Linked DNA regions of Homo sapiens. The protein of the gene in region 2 purifies or fractionates together with the protein of the main gene of each other region. This does not show direct contact. Each region holds a gene or a part of one and is shown on either strand. Other genes may lie near its edges.

Region 1 (3,912 bases), on a different chromosome or scaffold from region 2:
GTTCCTCGTTGTAAGTCCACTCTTTGTGAGTAGGTTTGCTCCTGCCTGGAGGACAGCGGCACGGTGACGGCATCTGTTTTGGGGCCAAGATCCAGTGCCTTGCGTGGTCCTGGGATTCCTGGGGAAGGGAGTGGACCCATGAGGTGGGTTAGAATCGTGTGTGGGATTCTCCAGCCCCCTGTACCTGTGCGTGTGGTATGCGCGGAGCCAGCCAGCACTGCCTGGCGTGGAGCTGGCGGGTTCTCAGTCTGACATCAACTCCCGGAGAATGGCATCTGCTGAACTCAACGTAGGAAGCCGTGCGGGGCCAGCGCGCTCTCAGGCAGCCTGAGTGGCAGGGTCCTTTTGTCAGCTGTTTGGATCTCCCACGTGGCCCAGTGCCCCAGCAGCACACACACACACACACACACACACACGCGTATTGAACAAAACAAGTTTCACAGGACATTTATCCACGCCCAGGAGATTTATCTTTTGTATGGCTTCATTTTGCAGAAAATTCACTTGTTTGATTTCATGGCCTGGTGATCCACAGAAGGCCGCACTCTGATGAGTCTCTGATCATCGGAGAGATGAGTGTCAATGAAAAGATCAGTCCTTGAAATGTTTTTCTTCTCCGGAGCTGACAGGTGATCTGGCCTAGGGATAATTGGAAAGTGTCCCCGTCAGCTGCTCCCAGGGCCACCGCAGGTGATGCATTTATCCCCGTAAGAAGGGGAGCTGGGGGGGCCCAGCTTAGAGTAGCTCAGGGCATCGGCCACATGAAGCCCCCCCGCCAGCATACAGGTGTCCAGCTCCAATCCCTTTAACGGAAACTGCATGTCCATACAAGCAGTATAATCGCTGAGGCACTTTGATTTGTGGTGAATTGAATGATTTAACATTTACTGAGAAATAGTGTTTCCAGTTTAGATAGAGTCGTGCCACAAGATCTTTGAAAAGTCAGAGTTGTATTTGCCTGTATGAGGGTGTCCAGGTATTCACACTCGAACATTCATTGTTGGAACTAAAGTGGTAAGACCTTGTCAAGAGTCAGACCAGCCAGCATGTCCCTGAAGGGAGAGACAGTTGTTGACACCCTCAGGTGTGCTGTGGGGTGGGGCGGGTGGGTCAGTGTCCACACTGGCGTTGCCTCTGGTGGTTCCCCCCAGAGGGGCCCAGGTGTGTGAGCCCCAGGGGCGTGTGGAGCCCCTACCTTCCGCCCCCAGTGCTGGTGGCCCTCCCTCCTTGCCTGACGCCGTTGTGGGTGCAGGGGTTCCCCCAGACAGGGCCCCAGGGCACAGGGTTACCAGGTGATGGCTGTCACCCTGCTGGGCTGGAGGAGCAGCTGCTGTCACCCTGCCTGTGCTTTTGTCTTTTGAGAGCTGTTTTTGGTTTGTTTCAGGCCTCTTTTTAGTACCACAGAAGGATACAATTTCATCCTCATCCATATCACTAAAAGGAAGTAAAAGGGTGAAGGGAAAAATGGAAGCGTGCTCAAGTGCCCTGTGTGGAATTCTGTGCCGCCCCCTTCATTAAACTTGACCGTTAGCGCCTTGTGTGCGGTTTGGGGGTCACGCTCTGCCCTGTCCTGTTCTTGCTTGCTTGGGTCGTCCGAAGTTTCTTGTTGCTTTTGTCTAATTGGAGAAGATGCCTGTGACTGACAAGAGGAAGATGAGCCACATTCAGAACCGGTGGGGTGATGCCGTCACCGTGACAAAAGCGTCCACCGCTGGACGTTTTTCCTGCTCCGTCATGGCTGCTCACTGTGGTTAAGGAAATTCAGCAGTGGCTGCGGATAGCGAACAGATGGTGGGCATGGCACCCTCGCCGTGTGGGAGGGGACTGACTGTCTGAATTGTCTTTTTCGACTGTAGGTAATTGGTACGCCTCAGAGACCGGCAGCGTCAAACACCCTGGTGGTAGGAAGCCCACACACCCCCAGCACTCACTTTGCCTCTCAGAACCAGCCTTCCGACTCCTCACCTTGGTCTGCCGGGTGAGCACTTCCCTCTGGACCCTTAGAGTTGTAGGACTGCTTGCGGTTCGCACCTCCACGTTCTCCTGGGCCACGTGTGTCACACAGTCGTGCGATGGGGCTCCCACGCGCGTTGACGCCAGCCTCCGAATCACACTCACCCATCATCGTGGCCTGCACAGGTGTGCAGCCGAGGCGCACTGCCTCGGTCATGGAGAAGTCGGGCTGGGCACCGCCCACCCCGCTTTGTGTCTGGTGTAGTGGGTGCTCTCTGAAGGGCTGGCAGCTCTTGGCCAAGACGGGGAGAAGCTGGCCTCGTACTCGCCACAGGACCTCGGAGACTTTCCCTCGTCTGTGCTGGGAGCATGTGGGATGGATTTCACCCACTGCCCCTGAATTCAGCCTCTACTGCCCCTGGGGTTACGGCCCCCGCGGGTGGTCCCGCCAGAGCTGCTCCTTCCACTAAAGCAAGATCTGATGAGCTGTGTCTTTCCTTAAAAACACACACACGCAAAGCTGCAAAAGCCTGCCTGTGTTGGTGCCCAAAGCTTCACCAGCTAGGAACCTCAGGTGGCCTTTCCCGCCATGTGGGGACTGACCAGAGTGTACAGAGTTGGGCTTTCCCTCGACCTGAAGCACACTTAGTGCTTTGCACCTGTTGTCAAGCGGCTGTCACAGCCCAAGCTGTATGAAATTACAGCCTGCTGAAATTAGTCCTAAGAATTCCCAAATTTACACTGAAACGTCCCATAGTTCCTGATTCTGGCTGCCCTCTTTAGAAAAGTGGTGCTTGGGGCTCACGCCTGTAATCCTAGAGGCCGAGGCCAGCAGATCACGAGTTCAAGAGATTGAGACCATCCTGGCCAACGTGGTGCAACCCCGTCTCTATTAAAAATACAAAAAAATTAGCCAGATGTGGTGGCACGTGCCTGTAATCCCAGCTACTCGGGAGGCTGAGGCAGGAGAATCGCTTGAACCCAGGAGGTGGAGGTTGCAGTGAGCCGAGATGGCGCCACCGCACTCCAGCCCACGACAGAGCGAGACTCCGTCTCAAAAAAGAAAAAACAACAACAAAAAGAAAAGTGGTGCTTGGTGTACCGGCACATCTCCCATATGCTGATTTGGGTCCTGGGGACGCCTCCCGTTTTCCCTGACGCTTGGAAGGTTAGAGGTGCAGCCTGCTGGGGAGACACTCGCTTTCTGACCTGCAGGACCACTGGGCCTGGGGGCTGGGGCTAGGGGGTCCTGGCCTGCTCACGTGTTGGATCTGCTGCGCCCGTGGGACGTGGCCCCTTTTTGTGCAGCTCATTAGAGCTCTCAGGTAAAAGCATTCCTCGATTCAGGCTGATCCTCAGGAGGGCTGACAGTCGCTTCTCTTTTCCTTTGTATTTTGAAGGAAGCGCAACAGGAAAGGAGAGAAGAATGGCAAGGGCCTACGGCATTTCTCCATGAAGGTCTGCGAGAAGGTGCAGAGGAAAGGGACCACTTCCTACAACGAAGTGGCAGACGAGCTGGTTGCGGAGTTCAGTGCTGCCGACAACCACATCTTACCAAACGAGTCAGTAAGTGTGTGCCGGGGGCCGAGAGGCTGGGGTGGCGGAGCCCAGCGGTGTGGTACGTTTCGCTCTTTTAATATCGGGAACAGTTAAAACCATACAGAAAATGCCAAGTACAGCATAAAAGAATTTTTACCAAACGAGTCAGTAAGTGTGTGCCGGGGCCGAGAGGCTGGGGTGGCGGAGCCCAGCGGTGTGGTACGTTTCGCTCTTTTAATATCGGGAACAGTTAAAACCATACAGAAAATGCCAAGTACAGCATAAAAGAATTTTTCCGATCCATTTGCTGGCACGATGCTTTGTCAACTCCAGTGAGTGAGCACGTGGGCTGGCTCTGCACGTCTAGCGGCCCAGAAATGCACAAATGCCCACCTCACCAGCTGGGCTCGACACCCGAGA
Region 2 (3,912 bases):
TTGGCATAAATGGTTTCCCATACAGGAAAAAACCCCACAGTGCATTTCCAGTAGGCACTTAACACAAAGCTCCCTCTCCCTCCCCCACCCCAATGCTTCATCTAGGACCACACCGACATTTTGTACCAAGTCCAGTGTGTGTGAGGGGAGGAGGCCAGGGATGGAGGCTGAAGAAGAAAAAAAGGAAGATAGTCTGCACCTTTGTTTTTCTTCCCAAACATACACCCACGCATACCCACACAAAGAGTTTAAAGTGCTGGTGTCATCTGTCTTGACCCCACCACCACTTTGCATATTGTGGAAATCTACCTGGAGTAAACTGGCTGGGGCTCTTGTGGTTTTTTGTGTGTTTTTTTTTTTTCCTAAGGGATATTTTCAATTCAATTAAACATATGAGTTGAGTGCCTACTATGTGCCTACCATTGGGTCAGGCACATAGCATTTCAATTTAACTGTTCGTTTCGAGGTTTGTTCTTTATCTGACTCCCTCATTCCCGCAGTCCTTAGCATCCAAGGAATGGACCGGAGATACTACGCCATATTCCCAGTGGGAGATGGCCGCTGCCACCTGCCCGAGGGAAAGCCATTCTTGGACATAACTGGTAGGATTTGCAGCTGACACAAAGCCTCCAACTTGGGACACCATTCCTGAAGAGTAAAGCGGGAGACACCCTGGCATTGTTTTGCTTCATTTTTTACGTCCCCGACTTCCCTTGGTCCAACTTATTCCTTCATAGAGGAAGGGGAACGGGGTCTGGCCAGAACTATTCCAGCCCCCGACACAGGGCTGCTCCCTGTTCCTGCCAGCTTAAGGAAATGCCACTCACACAATGGGGATGTCTTTCTCCCTAGAGGTCTCTCCATCTGACCCCATCCTGAGAAGTGGTCTCCCTGAGTGCGGTGTAAGAGAGCCCTTTCCCCTGTCACAGGGGCCCGGGAAGCCCAAGGATGGAGGGACCCATGCCTGCTGCTCCTTGGGGCTGTTACATCATCTGACCTGGTTCTCCTTTCCAATGGGCCACCCATGTCAGCAAGCCCCAGGACTGACTCGCTCCAAGCTCCCCCTCCTGGGAATGGAAGCACGATGGGACAAAGCTCCTTGCAGAGGCTGATAAACCTTAGATCACACAGGTTTAGATGCTCTGATCAGTAGAGGTTCTCTCCCTCTGCTTAAGTAATATGAATTTGCAAAAACCGCTTCAAAGTAAACAATTAAATTGAAATGGTGATGGGTGCCACAGGAATGCTTAAATGGCAGCTAAAAAAATTAAAAGTCTAGAACAATCCACAAAGAACTAAGTAGGCATTTGCTACAAATCAACTGGAAACTCACAAACACATTGGGGACGGGGGAATGGGAGTGGTTCATGGAGACAGGAAAATCCACAACAGCTTAGAGTGGCAGAACTCTACTAGTCTTCTGTATCTGCAACAAGTATATTTGAAAACAGGTTCTTCATCCAGAAGGCTGTGGAGGTTTTCTTGACCTCCTACTGGGACACACAGTTCATAGCTTAAACTGAATTATGACAGTAATTTAAATATTCCTAAGAAGAGCTGAAGAAATCCATTTCATACTTTTGCATGACTTCAAGTTTGCATTTGCTGCAGTTCCATTCCATATTAGCAGACCTCAAAGACATGCATTCTGCGGAGAAGGCACGGCTTGAAATGCTATTAAGGAAGATTGCTGTTTCCCAGCAGGCCAGGTGGCCAGACCCCATTCTACAGCCCATCCGTCAGGCACAGCAAGCCAATCCGGGGAGGAAGGAGGAAGGACAATTCGGGGTGAGAGACACCTGATTGCACATTTTCTCACTTGCTGACTTAGCCAGGAGATCTTGGAGCCTGGAGCAAAGCAGGGCTTTCCCAAGGGAGCCTGCAACTGTGCGTTTAGACAATTTGTTTATTAATTTTTTAAAAAATTCATTAAAATGTCAGCTTTCTTCTGAAGTTTGTAGTTTACTTCATGATACTCTCTTGGAGGAAGAAGGTAGGAAGGGACAACACTGCATGACAGATGTTCTGGTTCCATGATAAAAAAATATCGGTTTTTAAGGAGAGTTCACACGAAGCATAATCAACTACACATGAAGTCTTCCACCAGTGGGAGCTTTTCCAAATCGTAAGCATCGAAGAGATCGCTGATGCCTTCCTCCTCCCCGAGGCTCAGGAGATAGTCCTCTTGCAGCAGGGGAGGCAGTAAGTTCACAAACGGTCCTTCTAGGTTGGAAGGAATTTGGTCCTCAGTCTGCTGTAAGAGGTTGGCTGGGGAGGCCAGAGGAGAAAGGTTTCCCATAGAAACTGAGCAATCGCTATGTCCTGAGTTGGTTGAAGCCAAGTCTGAAAAGAAAACATTGATGGAAACAAAAAATAAGTTAGAAAAATCAAATGAATTTTTCTGGAAGAATGTATATGTTGCTGTTAGAAAAAAGCATGTACCTTCCGCAAATAATGACAATGAGACGACTTTATGATGCAGATCACCTTTTATGCTAACAGGTACAAAAAAGTTCCTTGCCACCCCCGTCCCCCTTTTAATTTTTGAGACAGGGTCTTATTCTCTTGGCTGGAGTGCAGTGGTGTGATCATGACTCACTGCAGTCTTGAACTTCTGGGTTCAAGGGACCCTCCCACCTCAGCCTCCCAAGTAGCTGGGACTCCAGGTGTGAGCCACCATGCCTGGTTAATCTTTTTTTGTAGAGACAGGGTTTTGCCATGTTGCCCAGTCTGGTCTCGAACTCCTGGGCTCAAGTGATCTGTCTTCCTTGGCCTCCCAAAGTGCTGAAATTACAGGTGTGAGCCACCATGCCTGGCCATCTTTCTTTGGCCCTAGTCTACTCACTCATTTTTCAAATAACTACTGTCAATAAACAAGAATGCAAATAACTTCAATGATGAGAGGATAACAAGTTCAAAAACTTCTCTCTGCTATCTAGTCATTGTTTTAAGAAAATCAAAACAAAACAATATATACATACTGAAAAGTTGGCTTCCTAGTAGAAACTCACCAACTGAAAAAAGAACTTTTTTTTTTAAGAGACGGCGTCTTGCTATGTTGTCTACGCTGGAGTGTAGTGGCTATTCACAGGCAAGCATAGCTCACTCTAACCTCGAACTCCTGGGCTCAAGCGATCCTGCCACCCCAGCCTCCCTATAGCTGGGACTACATGCAGAATTCACTGATTTTAACTCAGTCTTTTTTGAACAACCAGCTTATTAAAAAGATCTCTAAAAATACATACAATAAGACAGATCCACTTTGGATTTCTGTGGTGAAGAAAGATGGCCTTTTGTTTTACCATTTCAGGTGATGTACTTTTGCTCAGTATTAAATCAGACTTATTCACTTAAATCACCCTTATTCTTGCTGCTATATAGGGAGACACTAAGGGAAACAATTGCATATATATCTCCTCAAGTTAGGAAATGGAAAAATATATACTGCAAAGAGCTTCCTTTGCTCTTTGCAGAGCGGGAAGGAGAAGTTAGATTTCTTTTCTTTTCTTTTCTTTTTTTGAGATGGAGTCTCACTCTGTCACCAGGCTGGAGTGCAGTGGCGGATCTCGGCTCACTGCAACCTCCGACTCCCTGGTTCAAGTGATTCTCCTGCCTCAGCCTCCCGAGTAGCAGGGATTACAGGCACGTGCCACCACGCACAGCTAATTTTTGTATTTTTAGTAGAGACAGGGTTTCACTGTGTTGGCCAGGACAGTCTCGATCTCCTGACCTCGTGATCTGCCTGCCTCGGCCTCCCAAAGTGCTGGGATTACAGGTGTGAGCCACCGCACCCGGCAAGACTTACTTTCCTAGCGTTCTCCTCCCATATCCTCTCCCCATCTCATTGGGGGGGAAAATAAGACAAAAATTCTCCAACAAAGGCTTTTCTCCTCAAACCTTTTTCATTTCCCT

Evidence for each region.
Region 1: the proteins of E2F3 (region 2) and TFDP1 purify together in Homo sapiens (affinity purification with mass spectrometry; 3 studies listed by BioGRID and IntAct, with this or other methods). This does not show direct contact.

The regions. Positions count from the first base shown.
Region 1 is NC_000013.11:113,629,767-113,633,678, forward strand, and holds part of TFDP1 (transcription factor Dp-1), read left to right. Parts: exon of another isoform or gene 1-1,536; intron 1,537-1,856; coding exon 1,857-1,978; intron 1,979-3,353; coding exon 3,354-3,519; intron 3,520-3,912. UniProt on the Homo sapiens protein: Can stimulate E2F-dependent transcription.
Region 2 is NC_000006.12:20,488,599-20,492,510, reverse strand, and holds part of E2F3 (transcription factor E2F3), read right to left. Parts: intron 2,344-3,912; coding exon 2,081-2,343; 3' UTR 1-2,080.